Homo sapiens: one gene and its partners. The protein of the gene in region 3 interacts with the protein of the main gene of each other region in a pairwise test. Each region holds a gene or a part of one and is shown on either strand. Other genes may lie near its edges.

What was found. The genes of interacting proteins can lie anywhere in the genome.
Region 1: the proteins of SPRED1 (region 3) and TRIM35 interact in binary tests that used the Homo sapiens proteins (3 or more experiments, as listed by UniProt).
Region 2: the proteins of SPRED1 (region 3) and GLI4 interact in binary tests that used the Homo sapiens proteins (3 or more experiments, as listed by UniProt).

What each region holds. Positions count from the first base shown.
Region 1 is NC_000008.11:27,284,385-27,287,496, reverse strand, and holds the end of TRIM35 (E3 ubiquitin-protein ligase TRIM35), read left to right. Parts: 3' UTR 1-2,611; downstream 2,612-3,112. UniProt on the Homo sapiens protein: E3 ubiquitin-protein ligase that participates in multiple biological processes including cell death, glucose metabolism, and in particular, the innate immune response.
Region 2 is NC_000008.11:143,263,381-143,270,445, reverse strand, and holds the start of GLI4 (zinc finger protein GLI4), read right to left. Parts: upstream 3,002-7,065; 5' UTR 2,962-3,001; intron 1,087-2,961; 5' UTR 1,050-1,086; coding exon 926-1,049; intron 1-925.
Region 3 is NC_000015.10:38,255,104-38,263,927, reverse strand, and holds part of SPRED1 (sprouty-related, EVH1 domain-containing protein 1), read right to left. Parts: intron 1-8,824. UniProt on the Homo sapiens protein: Tyrosine kinase substrate that inhibits growth-factor-mediated activation of MAP kinase. Negatively regulates hematopoiesis of bone marrow.

The sequences.
Region 1 (3,112 bases), on a different chromosome or scaffold from region 3:
TCTTCCTAATGCCCACACTGCTTGGGCACTATTGCGCCCCTGCCTCCTTGCCAGGCTCTTCCTCCTGTCCTGCCTGGTCCTTTTCCATGACTCCAGGCTGTGCCTCTCTCCATGTTTGGTCCCTTCTGTGCCCATGGTCAGGAGCTATTCGGGTGGCACCTCGCTGGCCAGGCTCTCCCGAGTCGTGGCACCTCCACAATGTGAATTTTCTGAATCCCTATTCCAGGATTTCTGGGAATAATGTTTACTTCTAGAATGGGCCTGTTGTAAACCATCTCATCGAGGTGTGGTAAAGCCATTGGATGAGGAGGGGACTGCCATGGAAAGGAGAGTTTGTTACTTACGGTTCTGAGAGGAGGGGCCACATAGGAAAGCCCCACGGTGGGTCAGAAGGCGGAAGGAGGGAGGGGAACGTGTGGGCAAGAGACTTCCTCTGGTTTCCTCAGGAGGAAATGGGCAAGGCAGAGTAAGCAGGGGAGACAGGTTTAAGGGTAGCTGGCTTGAGTAATTTCAGTGGCTCTCAGGATAGGGGCTGCCCTTTTTGTCTGATACCTGGCCCCGGGATAGTCAGGACAGGTGAATGTTGGCCTGGGGTGTGACAGCCCTGGGAGAGCCATGTGAAGGAGGCAGCTGGCGCCATCGCTCCGGATTAGTTGGTTTCCATAGGAAAGGCATGCTTTCAGCCAGATGCTTGCCATCTCTAGGGATTGGGGGATTGGCTAGCCTGGGAGGATCAGTCTGTCCAGGTCAGCGAGGCCCCAGATACCAGAGCATCAAGAGTACAGGAAATACAGTTAATGCAGGGCCTCTGTGTGGCTGGATCCTCCGTCTCCATCAGATCAGCTCTGATTGATCTATTCTTGCACGATTTCCTCTGAACACAGGGTTCCAGAGTACTTAAACACAACATTTTTTAAATCGTGATTTCGGCCTATTTCCTTGCCAGGCCTGTTTCCCCACCAGGAAATGAGATAGGAGGACTGGATGAGGATGTCCTGTTATAGTTGCTGTGGAGGAAGTTCCTCTGGTTAATTCTCATCAGCGTCTGCAGAAAAGAAGGAAAGAGGGCACCCTTTTCAGTTGGGAAGAAAGGAGAGGGGTGGCGCCATGGACGTGGCCCTAAACGCTGTGGGAGAGGGAAGAGGAGGCTGGGCCTCGCTGCCCTCTTGTCTCTGCTGACTTCAGCCTGGTCATGCTTGCTCTGCCACTTGCGATTTCATCCCTAATTTCTTCCTCCACCATGCCTGCAGACTTTTCCCTGGGCTTGTTTTTTCTCGCACATCTCTGAAGAGTTTTTAATCTTCAGCTCATCATGTCCCAGGAAGTGGCATCATAAAAGGAAATATTTTTTTTTCCTAGGAGCAGTGTTAAAATCTGGGTCACATTCCTGACCAAGGACAGCATCCTGCCTTCTGCCCATCCCCTTCAGTTCACAAAAGCTGACATTTTAAACAAATCATGACTCACACGTATTAATTGGTTATAAATATGTTGTGTACACTGGTTAGATAAAACTTAAGGCCACAAGGAGGGCCCAGGTAGGCGATGTCAGTGTGTGAAGGGGCTGGATTGGGCGTGGTGAGGATGTTGGCAAACCAGTGCATGCACCTGGTTGGAAGATGCTCAGCCTCACAAAAGCTCCAAGCCCTTTGGGAGCCAAAGTGTCTGAGAGTGTGACCCTCTCCTGTAAAGTATTTATCCCACCCATTAATATAATTTCTGTATAATAAACTTGACCTGAAATTATTTCATTCTTTATATTAAACTTTTAAAAATGTTTTTTATTTTCACCTTAGATATGGGAAGAGTTTTTTTTTTTTTTTTTTTTTTAACAGGATAACTTGAGCAGGCTAGGCCTCTTAAAAAAAAATTTGAGCTAAAACTCATTTTTCTTTTGGCATTTTCTTTTCAATGTTCTTATAAGCAAAGTTCATCCATGTTGTAGCATGTGTTCAACTTTATTTTTTCATCGGGTAATATTCCATTGTATGGAATGGTAGTACTACATTTTATTTATCATGCATCGATTGGTGGACATTTGGATCGTTTCTACTTCTTGACTATTATACATAATGCTGCTAGGAACTTTTGTGTATGAGTTTTTGTGTGGACATATGTTTTCATTTCTCTTTGGTATATGCCTGGGAGCAGATTTGCTGGATCATATGAAACTCTATTTAACCCTTGAGGGACTCCCAAACTGTTTTCCAATGTGGTGACACAATTTTATATCCCATCAACAGGGCATGAGGGTTCTGATGACTCCACATCCCTCAGTGCTTTTTATTATCTATCTTTTAACTTAGCCATCCTAGTAGGGGTAATGTGGCATCTCATTGTGATTTTGGTTTGCATTTCCCTGATGGCGAATGATATTGAGCATCTTTTCATGAGCTTATTGGCCATTTGCATATCTTCTTAGGACAGCTATCTTTAGATCACTTGCTCATTTTTTAATTGGGTTATTTGTCTTTTTATTATTGAGTTGTAAGAGTCCTTTTATAGCCTGGCACAAGTCCCTTTAACTGGTATATGATTATAAAATTTTTCTCCGTGAGCTGTTTCATTTCCTTGATGATGTCCTTTGAAATACTAAAGCTTTTAATTTTGATGATGTCCAATTTTTATTTATTTTTTCTTTTGTTGTACATGTATCCTAGAAATCTCACTTTTGATACTGCCCTTAGGTCCATGTAAGTTCGGGGTTTTGGCTCAGGGATGGGGCAGTTATTCTGTTGGCAGGAAGCGCTAGTCCACGAGTTCATTAATTCTTCCCTGAAGCCCCTCTCCTGCCCTTGCCTTCCACTCACCCCGTCACTCTCCTTCTCATTACTGTGTCCAGGCTCAAAGCAGCAGCTCTCTGGGAAGGCCCCCGTTCTCCAGTTTCTCCCACTTTTGCATCCATTCCACATGCACCATCGTTCATGTTCCCATCACCTGGAGAGACCCCATTTCCAACCCGCTGCAGTGCATTTCTCCAGGGCAGCTCTCAGGGCACATTGTCACTGCACTCTGCCTTTATACCCGGAGTCTTCTCAGTCCCGTCACACATGGCTCCAGCCGGACCAGGCTCCTGTTTACCCTTGAAATAGGCCACCTGCCCTCACCAGGG
Region 2 (7,065 bases), on a different chromosome or scaffold from region 3:
GCAGCGGAGACGGCAGGGCTGCAGGGGAGTGGATGCCAAGCTGCCTGGCTCCCTGCTCCTCTAACTCACCCTGGTCCTGGCTCCTTGGGGGAGCCCCCCGGACTCTCTGTCCCCATCTGAGTGCCCACCTGAGGGCCCCATGCAGCGCAGCTGCTCTCCACAAGCCTCAGTGGTCCCTTCAGCCACCAGGACTCTGACTCCCCAAGAGGGAGAACCCTGTGCCAGGTTGCCCCCATTCCTGGGCCAGGCACGGGCTCTCCAGGCTTGACCTATATGGGGCCTTGCCCCTGCTGTCAGCAGCTCATGTGCTGGGTTGGGCCACGAGGGCCGAGGCCAGGCCTCCTGTGGAACACCCAGCAGAGATGTAGCCTCAGGATCCCTGACCTCTGAGAGGGAGTAGAGCCAGGGGCACTATGGGGCTGGGACTCCCCCACACCTCAACTCCCAGAGCCTGCCATGTGACCATGAGGCCACAACATCAGGGGTGGAGCAAGGCTGGCGCTCTGTCCCTGCGAGTCCCGGGGGATCACACCCAAACCAGCTTGGCAAGGACTCTGGCTGCTCCACTTCCTGAATGACAACACACACTCAGAGGGGCGATGCCTTGCTCCTGGTCACGCTGGATCCAGATTTTGAGGCCACTTTCCCTCCTATACCTCAACTCAGGAAAGAAACAATGCGGGGAGCTGTCCCTAGGGAGCGAGAGCTCAGGCTTGGCCCCAGCCTCAACCACCGCTGCCCCAACCCAACCCGCGCCGAGCCCCTGGCCTGAGGGTGTGGGAACCCCAGCTGCTGAAGGAGCTGCATACAGGTGTCTGGAGGCGCCTCTCAAGTCAGCCAGCGTGGCAGGTCAGGAGGAGACAGGGCAGGGGACGTGAGGGCAGGGGATGCAGGGTGGAGGGCGCACAGCGGGCTGGGTGAGTACCATGTTGATGCCCATGGAGGTGAAGCTGAGGCTCGTGGTGCTGGGTTCCAGGTGTCCCCGGTGATGAGAGACTGACAGGGGACGGGACAGAAGGGGACTCCTGAATGTCCCCTAGGGCTGCCATCTTCCCTGAGACCTGCTGAAGGTGTCACACCTGGGACCTGGGGAAAATGAAAACCATGGCAGATGAGGGGATTGGGAGGAATGTCGGGGGGATGGTGCAGGAGGAGGCAACATGCCAGCTCTCCAAGGGGAGATGGAGGTTTATCCACTCCAGGAGGAGCAAGGATGGAGGATGAACCCACAGAGACACATAGGCCTGGGGTGAGGCAGTTGGGGGACCTGGCACATTTATTCAGTAAGGAATAACGCTTTGAGTGGCTGGGGACGGTGGCTCATGCCTGTAATCCCAGCACTTTGTGAGGCCGAGGTGGGTAGATCATGAGGTCAGGAGTTTGAGACCAGCCTGTCTAATATGGTGAAACCCCATCTCTACTAAAAATATAAAAATTAGCTGGGCGCAGTGGCGGGCACCTGTAATCCCAGCTACTTGGGAAGCTGAGGCAGGAGAACAGCTTGAAATCAGGAGGTGGAGGTTGCAGTGAGCCGAGATGGCGCCCCTGCACTCCAGCCTGGGAGACACAGCAAGACTCAAACAACAGCAGCAGCAGCAGCAGCAGCAAAGGAGTAACGCCTTGGAAGGCGCGCTTAGGAAGCAGCCACCGCCTGGGCGGCACAGCAGACGCCTGTGGGGGCTGAAGCGAAGCTCCTGTCCCAGCAGAGGCTCTGGCATCTCCTTCCAGCCCGTGGCATCACCCCTCCCCCAGAGAAAGGCATAGGGAGTCTTCCAGAAAAACCTCAGCTGCTGGCCCTGTGGGAGGGCTGAAAACCGAACCATGCCTGCTGCGCATGAGTGTTTTGGAGGAAATCTTAATAAGGTTTTTCCCGAACAGCAGAGAAGAGACGTTTCCAGAGGGCAACTCTCTTCCTCAGACCCTACAGAGCCCTCAGAGACTGCAGGCTGGAATCCCCTAGTCCAGCCCTGCAGCAGCACTGGGAGACTCACTCAGGGCTCCAAGACACTTCTTAGTTTACTTTGCAAAAACGGCTTGAGTCCAATGTGAAAAGTGACTTTTCTTTCATACTGTGATAGAGTAGGAACTCCTAATCTGGGGCAGGGAGTGAAGAAAGGAACGGGAAAAGAGGACAAAAGTTAACGGATACTCAGATCTAAGAACAGCAGACAGTGCCTGCTTCGAGGAAGTGGGAGAGGCAGCTCCCACACGGCCGCCACCCCAGTGCCCGGCTTCTGGGCCAGCCTCCATCCCCTAATGATGGGAAGGGTCAGGTCACCAGGTAGGTGGCCACTGGGTGCAGGTCCTCCACCCTGAAGTCACATCTCAAGTTACTTAGTTAACTTACTGGGGACACCTGGTAAAAGGGCCTGCTCGATCACCCCGACCCTGGCTTGGCCCCCAGGACTGAGCAGAGGCGACCATCACAGCGTGGACGCCCCTTCACCCCCAGGGACGCACAAACTCTGAGCTCCAGACTGAAGGGGGAAGGGCACTCCTGCCAGCGGCTCGGGGGAAGCATCCTCTGCCCCTCTGTTCCCAGCCCCGTGGGAGCGGACCCAATCGCCGGGAGCTCGGCACAGAGCGCGTCCGCCCGGCGGTGCGGCGCTGGGGTCCGGCGGCTCCTCGCTCCGGAGCGGCGGGACCTCCGGGCCTCAGTTTCCCATCTGCAGAGTGGCGATGACGACAGCTGCCGTCACTGGGTGCCTGGGAAAGGCGCCCTGCGAACGGACACCCGCTATCGCCAGGGCCGCTGGGCGGGGCGGTCCGCTGCTGCTCCGCGACCCCCAGGAGCCCACCCCGCTCCCCGGGCTTGGCCCAAGGCCAAGGTCACGGCGAGCGGCGGCTGCAAGGGCCGCACGGCCCGGCTGGGCAGGGCTGCACCGCGGAGTACGGCGCACGAGCTCGGACTGGGCTGGTCCCAGGCACCCGGAGCCGCCGCCGCCGCCCGCGCCCACTCACCTTCCGAGCGGGAGGAGGACGCCGCGCGCCGGACGGAAGTGTCCGGCCCCGCCCCACTCCGCCCGGCCGGCGCGCACTTCCGGGACGCTCTGGGCCCCGGGAGGACCGCACGCCTCGGTGGCCGTGTGGGGGCGGGGCCGGGAGCGAAGAGGAGGCCTTTCCCCGCCCCTCCCCTCGTGGGCTGCGCCCGCGCGTGGCTTTCGCGTACACGCTGGCCCGGATCCCGCCCGCGCCTGCAAAGCGCCCGGGCGCGGGGAGCGGCGCTGCGTGGGGCGCAGAAGCCGGCGCCTCGGAGCCTCCTTCCCGACGCCGGCCCTGCACCGCCCGGGGAGCCAGCGCGGGGCCGGGCTTCGGGAGATGACGGCGCCGTCCCCACGCTGCCCGCGGCCCCTCCGTGCACTCCAGGCCTCCGGGGGTCCTCGGCTGGAGTTGCTTCCACGTTCAGCTCGCGAGTCCCCCCCGCCGCCCTCTTGGGTTCCCTCCTCGGGATGTGTCCGCAGCGATGGTCACCGGCGGCCGGGAACCGCTGCGAGACGCGCGACCTCCCGCTCCCCTCGCGGGGGCCCCAGCGCCCTCGATTCTGCCTGCTTTCCAGGGGCGTCCCCGGGAGCCTGAGGAGGATGTTACAGGTTCCCCAAAGCCCCTTCATGGACTCCTTCCTCATTTTCCTCTTGTTCAGCCACAGTTTCTCCCTCAGTTCTGTGCTTACGACCTGAAAAGAGAAAATTGTCACTTTCTGGGAAAAATAAACGGCCGGGGAGGGTTCTTTGACCGTTTTGAGCAGGGGTGCAGAGAGCCGAGGCGAGGGGACCCCTGAGCTGGAGGGGCACGCGGAGCAGAGGGCGGGGGGGCCTGCAGACGGGCAACAGCTGCCAGGGTGGACGCTCAGGGCTGTGTGGGTGGAGGAGCCCCCAGGCTGATAATATGTAAAAATCTCTAAACTCTACCGCAAGAAAACAAACATTCCAGTTAGAAAATTGGCAAGAGCCGCAACAGACGTTTGACCGAAGAGGGCACAGGGATGGCAATAGGCTCGGGAAGGGATGGCTGTCAGGGAAGGGCCGGCCAGCATCGCGGTGGGTGCCACTGCACACTTGCCAGGTGGCTCAGGTAAAAACTGCTAACAAGTGCCAAGCATCACTGAGGTCGCGGAGCAGCTTGGGACATCGCCAGTGGTAAGGCAAAGTGGTGCTGCCATTCTAGAAATTGGCTTGGTAGTTTCTTAAAAAGTTATAAGTAGCGCCGGGCGCAGTGGCTCACGCCTGTAATCCCAGCACTTTGGGACACTGAAGTGGGTGGATCACCAGAGGTGGGGAGTTTGAGACCAGCCTGACCAACAGGGAGAAACCCCATCTCTACTAAAAATATAAAAAAGCTACCCGGACACGGTGGCGGGCACCTGTAATCCCAGCTACTTGGGAGGCTGAGGCAGGAGAATCACTTGAACCGGGAGGCGGAGGTTGCATTGCGCCGAGATCGCGCCACTTCACTCCAGCCTGGGCAACAGAATGAGACTCTGTCTCAAAAAAAAAAAAAAAAAAAAGGAACTAGTACTATATCTGATACTGTTTGGAAGTGAGCCCCCTGCACATCTCATGGAAATGTGGCCCCTGATGGTGGCGGTGGGACCTGGTGGGAGGCTATTTGGGTCATGAGTAGCTTGGTGCCCTCTCCTTGGTGATGAGTGAGAGCTGGCTGTTAAAAAGAGCCTGGCGCCTCCGCCCCTCTCTTGCTCTGGCTCTTACCAAGTGACGGATGCCCTGGCTCCCACTTTGCCTTCTGCTGTGAGTAAAAGCTTCCTGAGCCCTCCCCAGAAGCCTCTTCTTGTACAGTATGACCAGGGACAGCAGCACCCTCTGAACGCTGATCTGAACTGTGAGCCAAGCAAACCCCTTTTGTTCTTTATTTACTTTTGAGATGGAGTTGCCGCTCTTGTTGCCCAGGCTGGAGTGCAATTGGTGCGATCTCGGCTCACTGCAATCTCCGCCTCCCAGGTTTAAGTGATTCTCCTGCCTCAGCCTCCCAAGTAGCTGGGATCACAGGCATGCGCCACCATGCCCGGATAATTTTGTATTTTTAGTAGAGACGGGGTTTTGCCATGTTGGCCAGGCTGGTCTTGAACTCCTGACCTCAGGTGATCCACCCGCCTCAGCTTCCCAAAGTGCTGGGATTACAGGCGTGAGCCACTGCGCCCAGCTCCTCTTTTTTCTTTTCTTTTTTTTTTTTTTGAGACGGAGTCTCGCTCTGTGGCCCAGGCTGGAGTGCAGTGGCGCGATCTTGGCTCACTGCAAGCTCCGCCTCCCGGATTCATGCTATTCTCCTGCCTCACCGTCCTGAGTAGCTGGGACTACAGGCGCTCACCAACTTACCCAGTCTCAGGTATTCCTTTATAGCAGTGCAAAATGGACAAACACAGAACTACATCAGGAGAGCGGCGGACGACAATGCAATTGACTCGATGACAGGCTGCAGCTGCATTGCACCAGGCTGTGCAGACTCATTTTTGGGGGCAGCTGTGTCTTTGTATGTAGTTCTTGACGTCCTGTCACACGCACAGGCTGTTCTGTCACACACACAGGCTGTTGTCACCAGCTCCCTGTGCATCCAGCGCATCACGGGAAGCTGAGTCACCCAAGCTACCGTCCATGTCGGCTGACCCATGAGAAGCTGTGGAGCGTCTCACTCCCCAGGCCCTTTGGACAAATCCTCAGCCTGGCCAGCTCACAGGAGTGAAGGGAGATGGGAACGGGTGTAATCAGAGTGGAAGAATCCCCTTCCCCCACCAGGGAGGTGTGAAGGTGACGGGCAGGGCTTTGGAGGGAGTGCAAAGGTTGCTGATTTAATGAGCTCGGAGCCAGCAGCCAGTCTGGTCTGTTGGAGCAGCAGGTCCCCGCTCCTCACCTCGAGCAGGGTTTTGTTGGGTATTCACTGTAAATAATGAGCTAGTGTTTGTTATGCTGGGAGGAGGGGTTCCAGCCCAAACAGCCCCAGAGCCCCTGGTCCTAAGACGTGGGAGTCGGCCCACAGCCAGCCCCCCCAGCCTGTTGTCTTGATTTGTCCTCTTGGACTGTGGATTAGAAAAGGCCTCCATGGGCTTCTTTTGTTGAGATCGGGGAATCCAGTGCCTGTTCAGATACCCACACAGGCATGGCCTGCTCCAGCCAGTGCTGCTGGGGTTGGGGTGAGGGTGCCATCTGGACGGGCAGTGCCCTTGTCTCTAGGGGTCCCTGTGGGAACCTTCAAAGCTTCCCTGGCAGGAGGGCTGGTCAGAGACCCCGAGCCACTGGAGTAGAGAGGCTGAGAGCACTTCCTAGACCACACCTGGAGATGAGGGGCTTAGAGGAGTGGCCAGGCTTAAGGTCCAAGAAGGCTTCTCTAAGGGGCAGCATCAGAGAGAGATAGGGGTTGGAGCAGGAAGGAGGGAGGGGAGGCAGCAGAAGGGAAGGGCCAGCCCATCACAGAGAGGCAGGAGGGGCGCAGGGGCAGAGGTCTGATGCCTGAAGGAGTTGCCTGGGGTTCGAGTTTGGAAGACCAGGCAGGGGAGTGTGGTGAGCAAGGGGAGGACAGAACGGGATGGGGACAGACCGAACAGCCTTGACACCTCCACTGGGGGCTCAGACGTCATTCTCAGGGCACTGCGGGGCACAGGGGTCTGCAGGGAGGGAGGGAGGAGAGCTGACATGCACTGAAGATCTGCCTGGGGCTGTGGGGTAGAGAAGAGCAGGACAGAAGGGAGAGGGGGTCAGTGGCTGCAGTCCCCTGCACGTGACACAGCTGGCAGAAGTCCGCCTAAGTCCCAGGCCGGGATGCGGATGATGAGGAAGCTTTAGGCCTGGGCTGGTGGGGCAAAGACGGGGCCACTCTGGGTGTTGTCCTCAAGAGTGGAGAAAGGCAGTCAAGCACACTTGCCTCTCGCCAGCGCCAGCCACCGTGTCGCCTTGCTGGCTTGGTTGCAGGGGAGGGAGAGCTGGGAGGGTTCTGGTTAAGTGTGTGAAGGCATGACCAGTCTCCATCCCCACATCTCCAGCCACCGCAGAGGCTTGTTCCCGCACCGCTCCATGCCTTTCCAGCTTCTGGAACCCCAGGCGTCTCTGGGCGGTTCCC
Region 3 (8,824 bases):
CATCCAACCCGCGGCCCATGGGCTGCATGTGGCAGGACGGCTTTGAATGCAGCCCAACCCAAATTTGTACACTTTCTTATAACATTATGAGATTTTTTTTGTGATTCGTTTTTTTTAGCGCATCCGCTACCTTTAGTGTTAGTGTATTTTATAGGTGGCCCAAGACAATTCTTCCAAAGTAGACCAGGGAAGCCAAAAGATTGGACACCCTCAACCTATAGCAAAACCTGACTTCTGTCCCCATTATTACTCCCACAAAGGTCAATGACATCCTAACGGTTATATCCTTGTCTTAGAAATCACCAATCTAATTTTTCTGTGATATCTAACGCTTTCTCAATACTCCTTTTTCCCTTGGCTTCTAAAATACTTTCCTCTCAGAGCTCTCCTACCACTTAAGCCACTTCCGTCTTTTGGCGTCTCTTCTTTCTTCTACTCTCCCTTAAAAACACTGCTGTTTCTCACTTGTCATCTTTCCATTATTACTTAATATTCTCAATGGGAAATTTTCCACTGGCCTCAACTACTATATATGCTGAAGATGTCACTATAACTCTACCCTCTTAACCTTTTTGAGAACTCAACCTATAGTTAAAGCACCTTGTTGGACACTTTCTACCTTGACATCCAGTAAGCACCCAGACTAAAAAAGATCAAAACTGGGTTATTTTCCCATTTAAAAAACCGGGTTCATCTCTATTCCCACCTTCATTTAAAAGCATTACAGCGGCCTAAATTTAAAATGTTCAAGTCATCCCACAACCTTCCTACTCCTTCCTTCACATTCAGTCAAATAATCGTTGGACATTTGAATTTCTTCTCATATGAGTCCCCAATAGTTCCAAATGCTCTATTCCCAGCTCTGTTTTGTTGTCTTACTACATTCTTCCTCATCAACTGAAGTTCATTTTCTTCTCCCTCCAGTCAACTGTCCTAAGAAGCCCTGCTTTACACAAATTGGATTATCATTCCCTCACTTAAAATACTGAGTCGCCACTGTCTACATGATGAAAACTTCACCTGGTGTCTCTCATTAAGTATCCTTACTGACTAAAGATAGTTGTGGTGAGGAGGGAAGGTAGCTCAAAGAACAAATTTTCTTTCAACTCTTCGGTGTTTCATCTATAAAATTAATGGGAACTCTGTTCAAAATTCATCTTATTACTAACCAGTCAGATAAATATTCAACTTTTCAAGAAAAACTGATTTCCAGGGGCTTCTGCCATGCTCATATTGTGTCTCATATTTTAGGCCTAGCCACCATCCCTTGCCCCACAGTTGGTGATATACAGGTAAGCACAAATCTACACTACTCACAATCTGGTCCCTCAACACTTTCCTTAACAACTCCTCCAAACAACTGTATCCAAAAAGGTATTGCCTTTCCTCCAACTTTTTCTTCTTTCTGTGCTTGTCTTCTGCCCCCTCTCTTCCTGGTTGGAATACCCTTCCCCCATTCCATGCTCTCATTCATGGCTGACTCTTAAAATGCCACTTCTTTCCTGAAGCCTTCCTTCACACAGTCACCATCCTGCCACCAACTCCCAGGTAGAATCACTTTCTCCTTGAGCCTTGAAGAACTTTATAACCAGAACACCCATCACATTTCAGAAGTATCTATTTCCCTTGTGGACTGTGATAGCGATTTTAAAGTTTTAATTATCTTTGTATCTCCAAAGCTAAGGCAAAAGTCAAGTGCCTAGTAAGCACTCATTCAAATGCCACTGAACTGAATTTCTTTAGGAAAAAGTTATTAATGGTCCCTGTTCAAATCTATCCTGAAAGTGTAAAAAGTCAATATATATAATCCAGCAACTAAAATTCTGAAATGTTTAATACTGCTTTTACATATTAAGGGGGGAAACCCCAGAACTCCCCAATCTCACAGTATAAAAATAACACAATAAAACAGTAAAAAAAAAAAAAAAAGAGTTTGGTGACTGTGCTGAAGTGAATAAAAACACTCTGAAGTGGTAAAAGTTACAGTAACTTTGAAAAAGTGGCATCAGAAAAGACACAACTCACTAAATTTTATCTAAATTTTTGGCAATCCTGCCACGGGATGCTAATATATAGAAGTCATTAAAAAACACTGTATTTGTGAATGTAATTCCTAACTACATGAACAGCTCAAGCAAAATGTGTTTAATCACATGCAATAGTATCACTAAATACTACCAGGAAAAAGAATTACATTCCACATTCCAAGTTCATAATGGCCTTTATCCAAATTATAACTCCTGTTAGAAAGGCGTGAACCCAGGAGGCGGAGCTTGCAGTGAGCCGAGATGGCGCCACTGCACTCCAGCCTGGGAGACAGAGCAAGACTCCGTCTAAAAAATAAATTAAAAAAACAAAAACAAAAACAAAAACAAATTATAACTCCTGTCATACAGATTAAATTTAGACATAAAATTATTAAACTGATATTAGGCTGAAATTTAATTCCAATTACTCTTGAATTTACTAAAGGTTATTCTTTGCTCTCCAAACACAGAAAGAAATGCCTTGCAAGGTAATTCAGAAATTTCAGACACAAGGCAATTTCCACCAGTCAATCCTACATCTGAGTAACAGAAATGATATATTAATTCAGAAGTACAAAAAAATCAGTTATGATTCTAGAACTCTTGGACTAAAATCCCAAAGTTAAGTAAATCCCACACCCTCGTTTTAAATCAGAAAAATTAAAAATCTGAAATTCTAGAGAGCAGAAAAATAATTTGTCTCTATATTTATGAACATTTACTTTATTATGGGCAGAGATTAAATGACATTTCTGGCATTTATTAAGATCGTATCATTTCTCTCCATTAATCTTCAAATGTGATAAAATGCACTGCTTTTCTCATGTTGATCCATTCTTACATCCTCAAGATAAACCCCATTTGACTGTGAGGCTTTGTTTTGTTCTAGTTCGCTGAGTGAGGTTTGATTTGCTAGTTCTTAAAAATTTGCAGCCACTATTTGTAATATTTCGTCTCCTCTATTCTCTTCTTTTGGAACTGTTAGCTGTATGTTGGAGTTACTCATCTTATCCTCATGTTTCTTACTCTTCCTATTTTATATCTCTATCTTTGGGTTCAGGCTTCTGGGCTTCTGTCCATTGCAGAAGATTTTAGCCTTTTGTGTCATGGATGTTTTTGGCAGCCTGGTAAAGCTTATGACCCCTTTCTCAGAACAATATTAGGGGCCTAAAACAACATACACAGTATTACAAAAGAAATTAATTATATTGACATAGTTATTGAAATATTTTTCATTTTGATATGGTAATAATGCGGTTCTTTATTAACACTTTAAAATATATGCTCTAGCAATAGCTTTAATAACTATAATAATTTCAAATTAGTGATGACTATAAATGGTATTTCAAGATAGCTGTAACAGCTAACAGCAATTGTGCTATAAGAAAAAAAAAATCCGTAGTTTCTATTGGTGTTATGGGTTGAACTGTGTCTCCCCCAAAATACATGTAGAAGTCCTAGCCCCATGACCTTATTAGTTAAGATGAGGTCATACTGCAGTAGGGTAGGCTCCTAATCCAATGACTGGTATCACTCAAATGAAGATAGAAACACACAGGGAGAACACCGCCATGTGATGATGAAGACATGGAATTATGCAGCTCCAAGCTCAGGAATGTGAAAGGTTCCCAACAACCACCAGAAGCAAGGAAGACAAAAGAAAGGATTCCCCTACTGGTTTTAGAGGGAACATGGCCCTGCCAACTTTTTGATTTTGGACCTTTAGTAATTGTGAGACAATAAACTTGTTGTTGCTTTTTAAGCCACCCAATTTGTAGTACGTTGTTAAAGCAGCAATAAAAACTAACACATTTGCTGTCACAAGTACCTCTAATACTGTCATAGCTTGTTAACACTTCCTTTAATTATGAATGTTCAGGTTGAGATTAGTAAGAACGTCACATTTTCCTTCAAGCCCGCAAACACTCTGAATTTTAAGAATGCTTTGTCTACAGCAACATAATACCTTAGCGTGAAATCCATTATTAATGAACTGTTTTTCATTCTGAGTATCGCAAAAACACAATCTCACAGATATGTAATAATTTTGGTTCTGGATTCTGAGATGCAGCTATGACATAATACTTATCATAAATCTAAACATTAAAGAATAACAAAATTCATTACCTGAGTTAACTTCTTAAACTAATATACAGTTATCCCCTAGTGTTACATTACTGATTTGTATAAGTGACCTAGTAAAAAACTTACTTCTGTAAGTAAAGCATAAAGACTGGTATCTTGTTAGCATATTCCTTGTAGAACTAATCAAGTTGGTGTTTAAGCCCAATAGCCTTTGTTTACTTATTCATCCACAGATGGAGGCCATACTTTTTTTCTCTTTTTTAAAATGAGGGCTGTGCATGGTGGCTCATGCCAGTAATCCCAGCCCTTTGGGAGGCCAAGGCAAGAGGATCACTTGAGCCAAGGAATTTGAGACCAGCCTGGGCAGGACCCGATCACCACAAAAAATTTTAAAATTAGCCAGGTGTGGTGGCACACCTGTCGTCCTAGCTACTTAAGAGGCACAGGTGGGAGATCACTTGAACCCAGGAGTTCAAGGCTGCAGTGAGCTATGATCATACCACTGTACTGCCCTCCAGCCTGGACAACACTGCAAGACCCTGCCTCTTTAAAATAAATAAATACATAAAAAACAAAATTGAGTAGTACAAAATTTTGTGTCATCAAAGATACATGGCTATTAAGCCCAAAGTAAGTCTTAAAAGACTATTAATATACCAATTGTTTCCAAATTTTGTATCTTAATTGTTCAAAATGCATGCTTTTACCTAATCTTCCTACCACTTCTACTCTTAAGTCTTTTGTTTAAGTATGTCAAAAATAACAATATAATAAAATTAACAAAGTCTAAATCATACACCATCAACAAAGGAAGGGCACATATGATGCTTAGTCCAAATTCTTTAATTTATAAATCAGCAAACTGAGGCCTACAGAGCCCAGGATTAGAGAATAAATTAAAAATAGCTACAAAAGAAATCCATCTCCCAATTTCAAGTCCAGTGTTCTTTAGACTATACCATACTGCACAGAAGATGGTAAGAGTTAAATAAATGATGTACAAATGGCTTTTACATGAGCACTTAAATTCTATTTATAATATAGCATTTAAAAACATTCTAGTTACCGCAAAACAACCTAATAAGTTTTTAAATCAATTTTATTTTACCATAAAGCATTTAAAAAATAAGACTTCATTTTCTACCTTCAAAATTGGCAAAGAAAAATTCAGACAACTGTACAGACATTTCAAAGTTTAAGCACTCTCATATACTAAATACTTCTTTTCTAGAGGGCAATTTAACAGAAAGAATAAAATTAAATATTTTCCTCTCTTTTAACTCCATTCTTAGACTATCTCAAGGGAAAAGTAAGAGATCTGGATGGAGACAGAACTCAGGATGGTATGCAACATTGTTTAAAAATAACTAAAATATCCAACAATAGGAGACTGATTACAACTAATGTATATCATACACTGAACATAATGTAGCCACTAAAAATTATATTCTAGAATATTTAACGACTTAAGAAAATATTCACATTAAGCTACAATTGTACCCACTGTGCAATTCCATTCCACTGAGAAGAAACACATGTATATATATAAACTACATAATGCTTTCATAAAGCATTTATAACAGTGCTTGGCATACAGTAAAAATCTAATAAATGAATATGTTTCATCACCAACATCATAAGAAAGGTTTCCATGTAGACCAAAATTTTAGCAGCTGTTATTTAATGGCAGAATTGCAAATAAATTATTACTCACTTTAGAGATCATTTTGTACATTATCTGAAATAAACTACTACTCTTACATGGGGTGAAGCATTTTTTAAATTGGCATTTTTAATGTCGTTCCTGTTCCTACTGAAAGATGGAGAAGAAAAGCAGGCTTGTCTTTACCAATCATTTCCCCAAACTGGGTAAGACTAGTCAAGTTCAAGTTATACAACACCAGAGAAAAGGCTAAATTGTTACACTTTCCCCTTAGGCAGTTCTCAGTCACCAACAGCTGCAGTATAAAATCACGGAATCTGCTGCTGTTTACCCTTTCCTGATCAATTTCACTTCTTTATCCCTAGTCAGTTCCTCACCCTTGGCACTAATGTGGAACCATGGGGGAAAGGGAGAGCAATTTAAAGACTTAAAACTGATAAACAGCTGGAGATACATATTCCTAAATTTTGAGCTTCCTATGCCAAAAAAGACAGACACACAAATGTCTACCTTCTTGTGGATATAACACGGGTCTTCAGATACACCACATAACTCAGAGGCCAAGCACATCCAAACATCCCAACAGCACTTTAGGACAGTTTTTAAGCCTGATCTAAGTTATTTCTCAAACTTGCAGAAACAAAACATGTCAAAAATGAGGCCAATTTTTGTCTTTTCTTAAAAAAAAAGGTAAGCCTTCTTAAACGGGTAATAATTTACTTTTCCCATACTCTTTTTCGGCCTTTTTTTCTAATACAGCTAATGATCTCAAATGCATAAATTCAGAGAAAACAAAAAAATGAGGTAATGAGGCTCCATTAATTCAACCACATTTGTAGAGCATTTGCCATCAAGCACTGTGCTAGGCATACAAACAAAAGTAGGGAATTACAGAATAGCGGTCATAGAAATAAGTAAATAATCACAATATTATATGATTTTAAAACTAATATACATATGTACGAAGTACAGAGGCAACATAGAGGGACAGAGTGTTGAAAGAGGGGAAGAGAGAAGGTCTTTTGGGGAAAAATGACAAATTTACAAAAGTTTGTAAGGAGAGGAATTCTAGGTATGGTATCATAATGTGTTTAAAATATATAATTCAGGATCATAAAGTTTTAAGTGAGAAAGCAGAGGGAAATTAAGTTGAAGCAAGTATGCAGTCATTTAGCTGATTTTTACACAGGCCAACTGAATAATAAGCAAATTTTTATATTATGTATACACCACATCTATATAAACAAACATTAGATGGCTTAATATTACACAGCTTTCCAGTGCTTCCATTTATTTCTAGAATGTTTTCCAATTTTATATATATATATATGTGTGTGTGTGTACATACATATACATACGTAAAATGTATGGGGTGAACATATGTTTATTTACACTTATCAAAAATAACTCACCACTGGGTATATTTTTTATGAGGCACTAAATGATATAACCATAAAAATTTGCTTTCTATTTACGGAAAAACAGTTCAAACTCAGATTACAACATAGTACGTTTATCATACATGGTCTAATTCTAGTTAACCTAATTCCAAAATCTAATATAATCCCAACTTGCTATTAGAAAGCCTAATACTGACACAGGAAGTGTTTCTGGCTAACGTGAACCTAATAAGCCAAATGCTTATTATTTCAGCTACTTCACTTCTCCAAATGTTTTGGCCAAATTGACAAAAGGACATGCAGTGCTATATACACTCAATACCAAAGGACAAAGACTCTTAAGTATTATATAATATGCCTTTAAATGTTTAAAACTCTATTTAGAAGGCTAATTCAATAATGTAAAATATGGTACAGTTATATCTATCGGAAACATTTGACTGGAGTATTAAACAGTCTCTGTGCAAATTACCTACAAAACAAACATGTATGTGGCTATTTCCTCTACTATTTATAACACAAATTCTTTTGCTCTAGAGTATGTTTACTATTTTTGAAAAGTAAGATTTTTAAACATAAATGTGAAACAATCTAAGAAATGCTTTATTCTAATTTATTTCTTCCTTACTTGGTTTGGCATTAAAGCAAAGCCCTACACATAACAGATCCCCCACTAATTCTTGATTAAATATATTCTCACAGTCAGCCTAGGAGTTATCCATTTCTCTACATAAAACTTTAATTTCAAATAATAAGCATGTACTCGAGGATTTCAGAATGAGGCCCTACTGGATTTTACCACAATGGCTATCTAGAAAGGGTTAATGGTTTCCCAGGAAACTGGTGATTTTCACTTTTCTTGAAGGTTGAAATCAGGTGAAAAAGAAACTAAAGAATGTTAAAAATAGTCCCTACTGTAATTAAATCCCTATGAGCAATGGCTTTAAAAAAGAGAAAAGGGAAAAAAATGTAAGGCCCAAATAAAATCCATGTTACAGGGCAGTTTTAAACTGTGCTAAGGCCTTAATGGCTTCTGCCATGATACGTATCTTTCTTCATAATGACTATAAATAATAAATTTCCATTTCAAAACGGTTCACCTATTAAAGATGAGACATAAATTACTATATTAAAAGCTACATTCCAAATAAGTTCACTCTGTGGTTTATCTAATGCACAAGCAAACAATGCTGGCTCTAGTAAAACTGATTATCAGATGAACACATTATTTTCTAATATAATAGAGTTTTTTAAAGTAAAACCCCCAAGATTTTGTTCCCATGAAGAGTTTACCAAAATATTATGCTAAATATTATTATCGCCCTGCCCAAACTTAAAAAGTATTACAAAGCTCCTAGGGAATAATTTATTAATAAAGCAGGATAAATTTGTGAAAAAACGATTTTAAAAGTCTGGGTGAGTGAGATAATTTCCAAGTTGTCCCATACTAAGTACATTTAGATGAAAAAAAAATATTTAAAGCAATCCTCTCACTGAAGATTGCCATCGGTGTTTCAAATATCAACATCTTGGGGATTAAATCACTGGGAGTATTTTCTCAATTTACTGTAATAGCAGTGGAACGCACTATCACTATACAAAAAAACCTGTTGTCTCAATTTATTTATGGCAAGTATTTAAAAAAATGG